Linked DNA regions of Homo sapiens: region 1 is linked to region 2. A link means that fine-mapping ties the variant in region 2 to the expression of a gene that starts in the linked region. Tissue or cell type: aorta. Region 2 holds a variant in brackets; the other region holds the start of a gene. All regions are shown on one strand. Distances are from middle to middle.

The links.
Region 1: it holds the start of SLF2, and the variant in region 2 is fine-mapped to the expression of SLF2 in aorta (GTEx, PIP above 0.99).

Annotation. Positions count from the first base shown.
Region 1 is chr10:100,910,541-100,915,921 of GRCh38, forward strand. SLF2 (SMC5/6 complex localization factor 2) reads left to right here and starts at 2,423. Exons shown (of 20, transcript NM_018121.4): 1 at 2,423-2,710. The coding sequence starts at 2,571. RefSeq lists a silencer at 1,943-2,212 and enhancers at 2,433-2,502, 2,523-2,572.
Region 2 is chr10:100,886,871-100,892,251 of GRCh38, forward strand. No RefSeq gene overlaps it. Among named protein-coding and RNA genes, the nearest start is that of SLF2, 23 kb to the right of the region's middle. RefSeq lists enhancers at 3,118-4,317, 3,842-4,136. The variant A/G (reference allele first, on the strand shown) is at 2,138.

The DNA of each region.
Region 1 (5,381 bases), 24 kb after region 2:
ATCTTTTACCTAGTGTAGTTTCCTGGTCATCTCCTTTTAGCCCACTACAAATTGAAGTGTAAAAAACCCTTACAATAAACATGTGTGCGTGCACACGCATGCATGGTATATACGTACACATTTAAACTAGGAGAAAGGATATAAACACAAAATAGACTGTCCAGTACTATTTGGGGGTGGGAGGTGGAGAAGAGCCCTAGGCCCTAGAAGTTCCCCTGGGGTTCTTATTAATATGTTGAACATATTTCACCCTGCAACCCAAATCTGTACCACTTTCGTACACAGCTTAAACAAAGAAGAGTCTTGATGCTTATTGAGGATTTAGATAACTACTTCCCGTTAAGAAGATATTTTTAAAATTGTGTTTTCATTATGACTCCATCTCCATTTATTGATCGAGGGATTTCTTGCCTCACTTAACTCCATAATCTGTTACTCAGATTAAGAAAATGAGAAAACTATTGTTTGGTAGTTTGAGTACAGGCTTTAAAGTGATACTTTGGAGGCTGGATGATTCAAGTACTATAATCCAAGAAAAGCAACTAAATGATCATGCAGAACGTGTTTTTATGCATTACTCTTTATCGATTAGGCATGCAAGGAAATGAATCGGATTAAATGTTTCGTAGATGTGCTCTGTTATAGTACAGAAACTTCCTAGTGTAAAAACATCCAACAGAAAGCACTAAGAGATAGGAAATAATACATGTAAAATGCAAATGTGTAAGTCATTCAACACATTTTGAGTATCATGTTTTTTTATGTAAAAAACAATGTTACGTATAGTAAATTCTCCGCTATTAGGAGCAGAAAAGTACCCTCTATTTTGGCACTTCCCTTCTTCCGCCACCATTAGCTAGTATACAGCTGTACATATGTGCTTTTGGGGTGAATGTGAAACCTGTATATTCACTGTTTACCTTCGACCCTCTACTTTGCCAGCTTTTTGTCCACTTTATTCCTTATTAATTCTTCCTCCCGGGGACTAAAGGGGAAGGGAAAAGGAGGTGAACTTGGAGTCAGTCAGGCATGCTTAGTGACCAGAACAGTTCAATTTCGTTTTTTCTAAATTTTAATTAATTAATTTATTTTTGAGACAGGGTCTTGCTATGTTGCCCAGGCTAGTCTCCAACTCCCGGGCTCAAGCTATCCACCTGCCTTGGCCTCCCAAACTGCTGGGATTATAGATGTGAGCAACTGTATCAGGCCAATAGTTCAATTTCTATACAATAAACTTGAAAGACCCGTCCAAATTATTTTATATCATTTAAGATTTTTTTCCATCCAACTGATTAAATAACTCTGTCAATTAAAGCTTGGACATCTTGAAATTGATATTTTGGTTGTTAACAGTTATTGCAACAGTATTTGACCTGTCTCTGGAAGATTTTGTAAAGAAGTAAAATTCGCTGTAGGAATCTATCTGGGGAAGAAAGGGAACTATAATTTGCTCTGTACCTGTTACATGAGAGAATCTGAACTGTGCAGTGTACACTGTTTTATCCTTTTATGGTTTACAATTACCCAGAAAAGTGAGTAAAATGCCCGTTTTACAGATGTGGAGGCTGAGGTTCAGAGATACTGACCAGTCTCTCGGTTTATAAGGAAAACCATGGCTAACAGCCTCCAGAGCACAAGCCCTTTACAAAGGAGGGTTGGAGATTGCAGGCAGCTTTTACTTATCTATGCTGCCCACGCTTAACATGGAAAACTGAAAGCTGACCTTGTGTTCCTTTAAAAAATCTCCAAGGAAGTCGGCTGCAGAGACTTCATGGTAACTCATGAGAAACAAAATGCTTTTGTGGATTAACAACTGTCTTTATTCCAATGGAGTTTTTTGGGGGTTTTTTCTTCTTCTTAAAGACAAAAAAATAATCTACCGCTGACACTCAACAAGAACCGTCGTAGAATGGACAAGTCTTCGGATCGCGCTGTGCAGATCCCTCAGCAAATTGTGACAGTATTATGGCACTTTGGCCTAAGCTGTTAAAGAGACGATGTAATGAACAGCTGCGGATTTCTGAGGCACAATTGTGTGACACAGGAAGCCCAAGTGTTGGCCATCCTCAACGAAGGCAGCTGCCGGGCTCCGGTTTGCTTCAGCAAACCCTCACCCCTCGCCTTCAACCAGGCGGGTGTCGTCAGCTGTCCGCCAGCTGCTGCCCGCGCCTTTCCGCCCCCGCGCGCCGGCCAAGGCCGAGGCGGCCGGGACCAGAGGCGCGCGCCCTCAGTGCATGTGACGGGGTGGGAGGGGGAGGTTTCTTCCTCCCCCGTCCCCAAGCCCCGCCTTCTCCAGAGAGGCTGCGGCTTCCTATTGCGCCACCACCGAAATGACCACCGTGCCAGCCAATCAAGACGTGATTCATGAAGTAAGACCCGCCCCTTACTGGTCCCCAGGTTCCTTCCCGCTCACGCCGGAGTCACTTCCGAAGAGAGAACCGCCATGAAGAGAGAAGGGGGTGCCGCCCACCTCTGCTCCGACAGCCTCCCGGAGTCCCAGCAGCAAGACGGCAACCACGCACCCAACTTCTCCAGCCACGGCTCATGCCGCCGTCGCCAGCGGCGCCGACATGACAAGGCGCTGCATGCCCGCTAGGCCAGGTTTCCCCTCATCCCCAGCCCCGGGGTCGTCGCCCCCGCGCTGCCATCTGAGACCCGGTAGTACCGCCCATGCTGCAGCGGGAAAGAGAACAGAGAGTCCTGGGGACAGGTACCGTGCAGAGGGCTTGAGAAGGGGCCGGGTCGCGGGGGCAAGGGTATGAGGGGAGGGCTGCAGACCGCCGCTCTTCCAGTTCCCGCCATCCTCCGCGAGCTCAGGCGTTGGCATTTCGGGGCCTGGCAAATCCCCGCCCCGCCTCCGCGCAGGGGCTACTGGGAGTTGGAGTTTGCTTCTCTGTAGTTGGGCAGCTGCTCTTGGTCTAGTGACCACCAGCCTGGACAGCTACGGAGAACCCGCCTTAGGTAGAAAGAAAGTGATTTTTTTCCTTTGCAAGAGTTTGACCCGGGACCCTAACTGCTTAATGCATATTTAGATCGTTTTCTGTACGTTGTCAGTTCTACTGATCCTAGTGGTTTAGTAATATAAACCTTTTCTATGTTGTGGGTGAAATTATGTAACCTGTGATGAGGGAATCCCTTCCACGAATTACTTTGTAGTCCAGCGTGCACGCTAGTTCATACTTAAAAGAACTTGCAGATTTGGAATGTGACGTGTTTTCTCTTTCAGTAACTTCACGCCTCTCCAAGAGGCTAATTTTTTTGTAAAGATTTTGTGGGAGCTATGTAATGAGATGGGGAGTTTCATCTAATGACATCCTCTGACAATAAAACATGTTTAAATTCCCTACGAACTTGGTACTGTCTTTTATTTTAAGTTAAATTGTATTAAGTTTTAACAATATTCATGTTACTAATACTGTGGTACAGGCCCACAATCCCTTATCTTAACTCTGAAAGCCAGAAAGCTATGAAAACCAAAACGTTTTCAGTAAGTTTGGCACCACATCTTACTGGGCAGCCAGATCTGACTAAAACTAATGTAAGGCTGTTTGTGGTCTTTATCCCATTAAGTGTGAATATTCATGTTTTGCTGGAGAAATGTCAGTGGATTTGATTACAGGTTGCAGCACCAGACCCCACTGGGGACTTTCCATAATACATCCAAGTTATCCCCTTCCTAAAATCTGATAAATTCAGAATTCTAAAACACATTTGGCCCCAGAAGGTTCAGATAAGGGTTTGTGAAACTGTTATAATTGTGTGTGTGTGTGTGTTTTTTTTTAAGCCAGTTGTTAAATAAGCAGTGGACATTTTGTGTGCATATGAACTTAGAGAACCTACCTCTTGAAAGTTACATTCATGGTTATTTTACAGGTTTCTTGTATGTTTTACCCAAAATCATTTTTTCTCTTTCTGGTGTATTAATCAAAAAGGAGTCTGAGGTCCAATATTTTAGGGAAGAGATACAGTGTTACATTTAGTAAAATGCATTTAGAATTATCTTGTGTGCAACAAATGAGCTGCTTCTGGGTCCCTTCCCATCTCTCCTCAATCAATAACAAGATCAATAACAAGGTATCATCCTTCTTCCCTTTGCAGAACCTCCAACATTTACTCTGGTGGAGTTAATTTGCCTAGTATAATTTATGTAAACAAATGCATATATTCTTCCATAGCCCGTCACTCATATTCATCTCATAAGCACTTAGCTTTTATACCAGCATCTCAAACAAGCGTGATGGACTTGGTAAACCAGTAAAGATGTGCATTGCTCTTCTAATGTGACCAGTAAAGTGTACAAGAAGCTTAACCTTCAAGAAACTTGGATTGTTGGAATTTTCACTGAGCATTCCAACCTCATAGTGGATGAATGTTTAGGGAAATCAATAGTCTATAGCTTATTCTCTTTCAGTAAAATGATACATTTTAGCAAAATTTACCAGAAAGTTAATTTTTTGTTCAGCATATCATAACATCCCCTTTTTTGCAGCTGACAACTCTACAGTGAACAAATCAGAATACGAATTCTGGTAATGGATTCCTATTTCACTTTAGCATTATTGCCAATGTCAGAACTTGATTAGTTAAGCCAGATAATGAAATCCAGTCTTTACGGTACAGAAATTCTTAAAAATTAATTTGGTTTTTGTTATTCTTGTTAACTTTCTTCCTTTTCTCCTTGTGTTTTTCCCAAGCAATGTGTTATTTTTGTAACTATCTTAAGGATTCTTTGATAAAAAATTAAGAATTTGAAACTAGTTGTGACAACTCATTCTAATTTCTGCTGTTACTTAGATTAACATCTTAATGTATAAAGAGGGTAGCATAAGTTTGGTATTTTTCTTTTCTGCCCTTGTCCAGCAAACTCCTCTTCAACTGATTCCCTAGATCAGCCAAATCACCTGTATTGCCATTCTACCATCTACTGTTCTACTCTTGTTATGAGAGTCTGTTCAAGTTTTACTCCATTTTTATAATCCCCATTATTCATTTGGCATACATCTATTGAGTTTTTTTTTAGCTTGTTATTCTAAATTTTAAAACGCAGCTGTGCTTAGATACCAAGTAATTATTTTGTATCAATGTCTGCAGAGAACAAGTAGGTTCATATGCTGATACCCAAGATGTTGCATTCTACCATGTAGCCGTGAACATTTCAGTCTTAAGAAGCACTCTGTACTAATTCCTTGGGTCTACACACCAGTCTGACCTATTTAAGTACTATAAATAATATAAACCTCAGTTGTATTTTTATAAATGAACTCCTATAGGAAGTGATACGTTATATTTTCTGTTTTTTTAATGAACAGTTTAGCAAAGCATTGTTACCATTGTCAGAACTTTATTAAACCAAATAGTGAAATCCAGCCTTTATTTTATAA
Region 2 (5,381 bases):
CACCCCAGGTGCTGTTAAGCTTTGCAGGTGAACACAACCCAGGCTCTAAGGTAAGAACCCTAGGTCTGATTCCCCATCAGATACTCTCCATGCTCACTGTTTATAGTCCCTGGGGCATCACTACTTTAACTTGTTTATGTCTTTTTGAGTAAAGTCAGTGTGGGGAGAGCTGGAGACGGTGGCAGGCCTCTGTAATGGAAGAACCCAGGCTGGAAGAGCTTAGCAACTGCAGCTGCTCCCATCTCTCTCTGTTTCTCAATCTCTTCCTCTCTCGAGATTTCACCTCTCTCTGCCCTGGCTCCACCAGCTGTTTCCTGCAAATCCAGCTGAGACAGCTGCTGGCCCCACCATGCTAAATTTCCAGGGGCCCTGGAACCCCTTGGCTGTCTCGGCCCAAATGTGGGCAAATCTCAGGCGTCCAGACAAGGCTGAGATTGTTCAAAAAGCACTTCGCTAGGAAACTGGGGGGAACGCCAAAAAAGTAAATTACAAAGGCAGAGAAACAGACAACTTACGGAACACAGATTCCTTCCCCAGCATAATTCAAGTCTAGACCCAGAATAGTTTGTTGCAAGAACAAGAGGCTAAGAAGGGTAGGAAGAAAAGGTACAGGTTTTTGACCCCTTGCTCCTCATTCTTCCTCAATTCATTAGGGCTTGGAGTTTAGCCTGAGATAGAGGTTGTTCTGGGAAAGGGCCATATGTGCAAAGTGGCCCCCAAATGCTGAAGGAGCTGAGAAACAAAGAACGAGGCAAACAAATCCAATTTGTCAGTAAAGGGTGTTTTATTGGGGGGAACTTACAGAGAGAAGCATGGTCTTGCATGGATGCAAGATAGGTAGATTTCTGCACTGTTACTCCCCAGACCCATGGCTTATATACCATAGAGAAAGGGTGCACACACTCCAGCAGGACAATGCAAGGCAACCCTCCGGAAGAGGCAAGAATGCTACATGCGTCATAGCCTATAATTTGTGCGATAACATCAGGGTTGCTTTGTTCTTACACTAGAGACAAACAAGGTAGGAATCAGGAGGCACTCAGGACTGGGGCTACTCATAAGTTAACATGGCGGGTTAGCATCCGCGATGGAGTCGCTCTTGTCTCCACAGCGGTTAACACCATTGCCATGTCTCATTGAGTTCTCGGCTTTCAGAACAATGCCACCCAGGCTCCTGTCTGAATCTGGCTCCCAAATCTAGGCTGTGCTATGTCTGCTCTGCCCCCTAGTTGGGGCTCCTGACCTGGCCCCTGAACGAGGAATGCACTCCTCTGCCGACCTTCTTATGCCGGTTCCGGGGTGCCCCTTCCAGAGAGCTCAGTGACTCTGCTCCACCCACAAACATGCGACCTTCTCCCCAAGGCTGCTTCTACCTTTCCTTAAAGCTAAAATTGGCCAGGCATGGTGATTCACACTTGTAATCCCAGCACTTTGGAAGGCTAAGGTGGGAGAATTGTTTGAGGCCAGGGGTTCAAGACCAACCTGGACAACATAGTGAGAGCCTATGTCTACAAAGAAAATTTTTTAGAAAGCTAGCTGGGCGTGGTGGTACCCACCTACAGTCCTAGTTACTTGGGAGGCTGAGGCAGGAGGATAGCTTGAGCCCAGAAGTTTGAAGTCATAGTGAACACCACTGTACTCTAGCCTGGGTGACAGAGTGAGACCTTGTCTCTTTAAAAAACAACAACAAAAAAAGCTAAGATCTTGGTCTCTTGGTAGCTTTAGGTGCTGGGACTCTTGGGTTGATGTCTGTCTGGCAGGATGGTGGTGAAGCTATTACTCCAGAAGCCTTTCCTTCTGAGCTCCCAGCCCTAGCAATCCCTCTTAGGTCCCCTGTTCCCCACCATTTAGATGCCAGCCCACATGACCTTCCTATATTCCACTGCTACACTGGAGCTAACAAGCACAAATACGTATCAACTATCACCAAGAATTGAGAAACTGTTCTCTCAGAGCACCTCCAGAAGAAGTGAGCTAAATGCTAGATGATGCCTCCAATTCCCATCTCTAGATGTAGGTTCAACAGAGTTCCACTTCCACATGTTCCATCATTTATTGGAAATTTCCATCAGGCTCATTCATCAGCGCCTTAGCATCCATTACCCAACTTGCCCCCAAGCTAACGTGTCAGCCTACT[A/G]TTGCCAGGTAGCTGGAATCCATTGGTCCAACCATGGGCTTTGGGGTTCAAATTCTGGTCCTGTCATCTATTAGCTGGAAGACCTGAGTTAAGTCGTTTAACTGGAACTGCTTTTTCTGTGACATTGGAAGGAGTGTTTTGTAGCTCCCTCTCATGGTTGATAGGAGGAACTAATAAAATTGCATCTGTAAACCATCTAGCATTTTGCCTGACATATAGTAAGAATGTTAAAATTAATATAGATATACAGATATACTCCCTTTCCTATGCAAACTGGTGCTCTATACCAGCTCTCCAATATCCTTCGGTGACACCATCATTTCTAGAAAAGTAGATTATCTTGGATCCATGTGACAGACTTCATTCACATCATAAATTAATAAATTCACTTTCTGGTTTTAGGCATTAGTCTCTCAAGCCTGATCAATATGCTTTTGCCACTAGGACAAGGATCTGTTTCTGGTTGGGCAGAAAATGAGTTTTCTGCACCCAAAAGGCTGAGGGTCAGAGAAAATTATCCCAGTCTATGGCTGTTCCCGGAGAAAACTCCCAGGAGACAGCATGCTCATCACCCCCACAACTGGTCACCTCTATATCAGATACCCCTGGATTTGCCATCTCTCTTTCCATTTGGAACTGTTCTACGCTGGGCTCAGAGTTTCACATCTAGTAGGTGTTTAGGACCTATTTGTTTTGTCAGTGTGTGAGTGGGTGGGTGGATGGTTGAGTGGGTCACCGGAAATTCGTACCTCTTTTTGAGGCAGGGAAGGAGCAGTGGTGGCCTAGCAACCAGGGAATCTGCCTAGCAACGAGGGTGGGAGGCAGAGGCTGCTGGAATAGTTTAGAATGGCTAACAAATAGGCAGATGTAAAAGAGACCTTTCTGGATCTTGTCAAGTTGGGGTCTCAGGCCAAAAGGAGAAAGGAGACCCACAGGGATCAGGAAAGAAGTGTGGGAGGAAGGGCTGTATTTGAAAATGTTACAAACTCAAACTGGAAAAAGCCTCACGCCTTTTCTACATGTGCTCAAGCAGAAGGCACCCCTCCCCATTCTCACCCCGAGGAAGGTGATACCTCAGAGTAGACACATTTGAAGAGCATACCACCTTTTCTGCACTCCAATTTGCAAGGGTACAACATTTTAACATGTTCTATCAAGTCTGGAATTTTTATCAACTCAGAAAGCTACAACCCCCTGGAAAGGATGAAGACCTATATTCGCTTAAAATGAACCCAGAGGCAGATTAAGCGACTTTCCAATACGGTCTGTCTAGGGCAAAGGAACCATTAGGAACTCGGGACTGGTCTGACTTGAATTGTTTCCCTCTCTCCTTCCTTTCCACCCCGTCACAGGACAGGGCTTGGACATCCCCTCCTGTGAACTCTCAAGACCCTCCCCTGAAGAGAGGAAAAATTGTCATCAGCCTTTGACCTGATTAATAATTAAAACTGCTGAGTTTGAACTGCCCCTAACAGTGAGGTGCTCCAAAACCCCAGCAAACTTTAACAAATAACCAGCTTGCTCAGGGGAGAGAGGAAGCTTTATTCACTAGACAAACTGACAATTAGCTGCTATTCAAATCCCCCTCTAGTCCTAGCATATTGGTTCTCCTTTGAAAGTGGCTCGGCATGGGGTAGAATTTTTGGCCTTGAGTTTAGAACTACTGTGCATAAAATCAAAGCAAGGAAGCCAGCAGTTGAGAGAATAGAGGCTATTTGGGGATTAGTGATTTCGGAGTTAGATTTCTAATAACTTGGTGAGTGGTGGGTTAGGAATGTCCTCCAGGAGCATCAGGCAGTCAACACTGTGGGACATGTCCTCACATTGAACTGGAAAGCAGTGAGTCACTACCCTAGAGAGCGGAAATACAAAATGGCATGAAATAACTGCAACCGCAGCACCACATGGTAATCTGCCTTTTGTAACCTCTGCAGGCTACATCGCATGCTTACAACTTGGGGTTATGTGTGAAGCCCCAAGTTTGGCTCAAAGTTTTCTCCCCAAATAGCCACAAATATGGGCACCCCCACATTAGAGAACACATTAATGGAGAACAAAGGGAGGAGAGTGGATAAGATGGGAGAGGAGAGAAGGAGGGGGCAGGCATTCAAACTGCTCATTTTCCCCTAGGAAGCATAAGGCCCAGCCACTACGGTGGATGAGCAAAGCAAATTGGTAATGGGTGATCCAGATTGCATCGCAGAGTCTTGCCTGCTTTCCAGGCACTTACTAAACTTTATAACTCTTTTGGGGGTAAGGCACATAAACCCAGGGTTTCTCATTGACCAGTCGGGGAGAGGGAGTCTGAGCTCGCTGGTCCAGGTCTGTTGCTTTTCCACAATACTGTAGTCCATCAAGATTTTTTTTAATGCGTTTTTTAAAGGAGGGCTGGAAAATGATGATATGAGCAGCAGCTGCTGTAGATTCCAGATTGCAATAGCCCAGCCTAGAAAGCACTAGAAAACTCAGTGTTTCAGAGATGGAGAAGGCATAAGACAGAGGTCCACAGATGGATGGCTGCTTATCCTAGGCACCCTGATGTGGAGGGGGGAATTCTGTGTGGAAAAGTTTACCTTTATCCTTTTTGGTTTTAATTGAAGTACAACTTGCAGACAGTAAAATGGATGGTTCACAGTGTCTGGCTTGATGAAGGTATACTGTATGTGTATTCATGTAACCACCAGCCAGATCGAATGTGAAGCATGACCCCCATTCCAGAAGATTCCCTCGTGTCTCCTCACAGTCAATATGCATCCACCTCCCAAAAGTAGCCACATTCTACCCTCTCTCTAAATAAGTTTTGCCTGTTTTTTAAGTTTCATAGAAATGGAATCACTTGGCTGGGTGCAGTGGCTCACGCCTGTAATCCCAGCACTTTGGGAGGCCGAGGTGGGCGGATCACGAGGTCAGGAGATCGAGACCATCCTGACTAACACGGTGAAACCCCATCTCTACTAAAAATACAAAAAAAAAAAAAATTAGCCGGGCATGGTGACAGGCACCTGTAGTCCCAGCTACTCAAGAGACTGAGGCAGGAGAATGGTGTGAATCCGGGAGGCAGAGCTTGCAGTGAGCCCAGATCGTACCACTGTACTCCAGCCTGGGCAGCAAAGTGAGACTCCATCTCAAAAAAAAAAAAAAAAAAAAGAAATGGAATCACTTAGTATATACTCTTTTGTGTTTACCTTCTCATGCTCAATATATCTGTGAGATTCATCTATGGTGTTGTGGGAATCAATAGTTC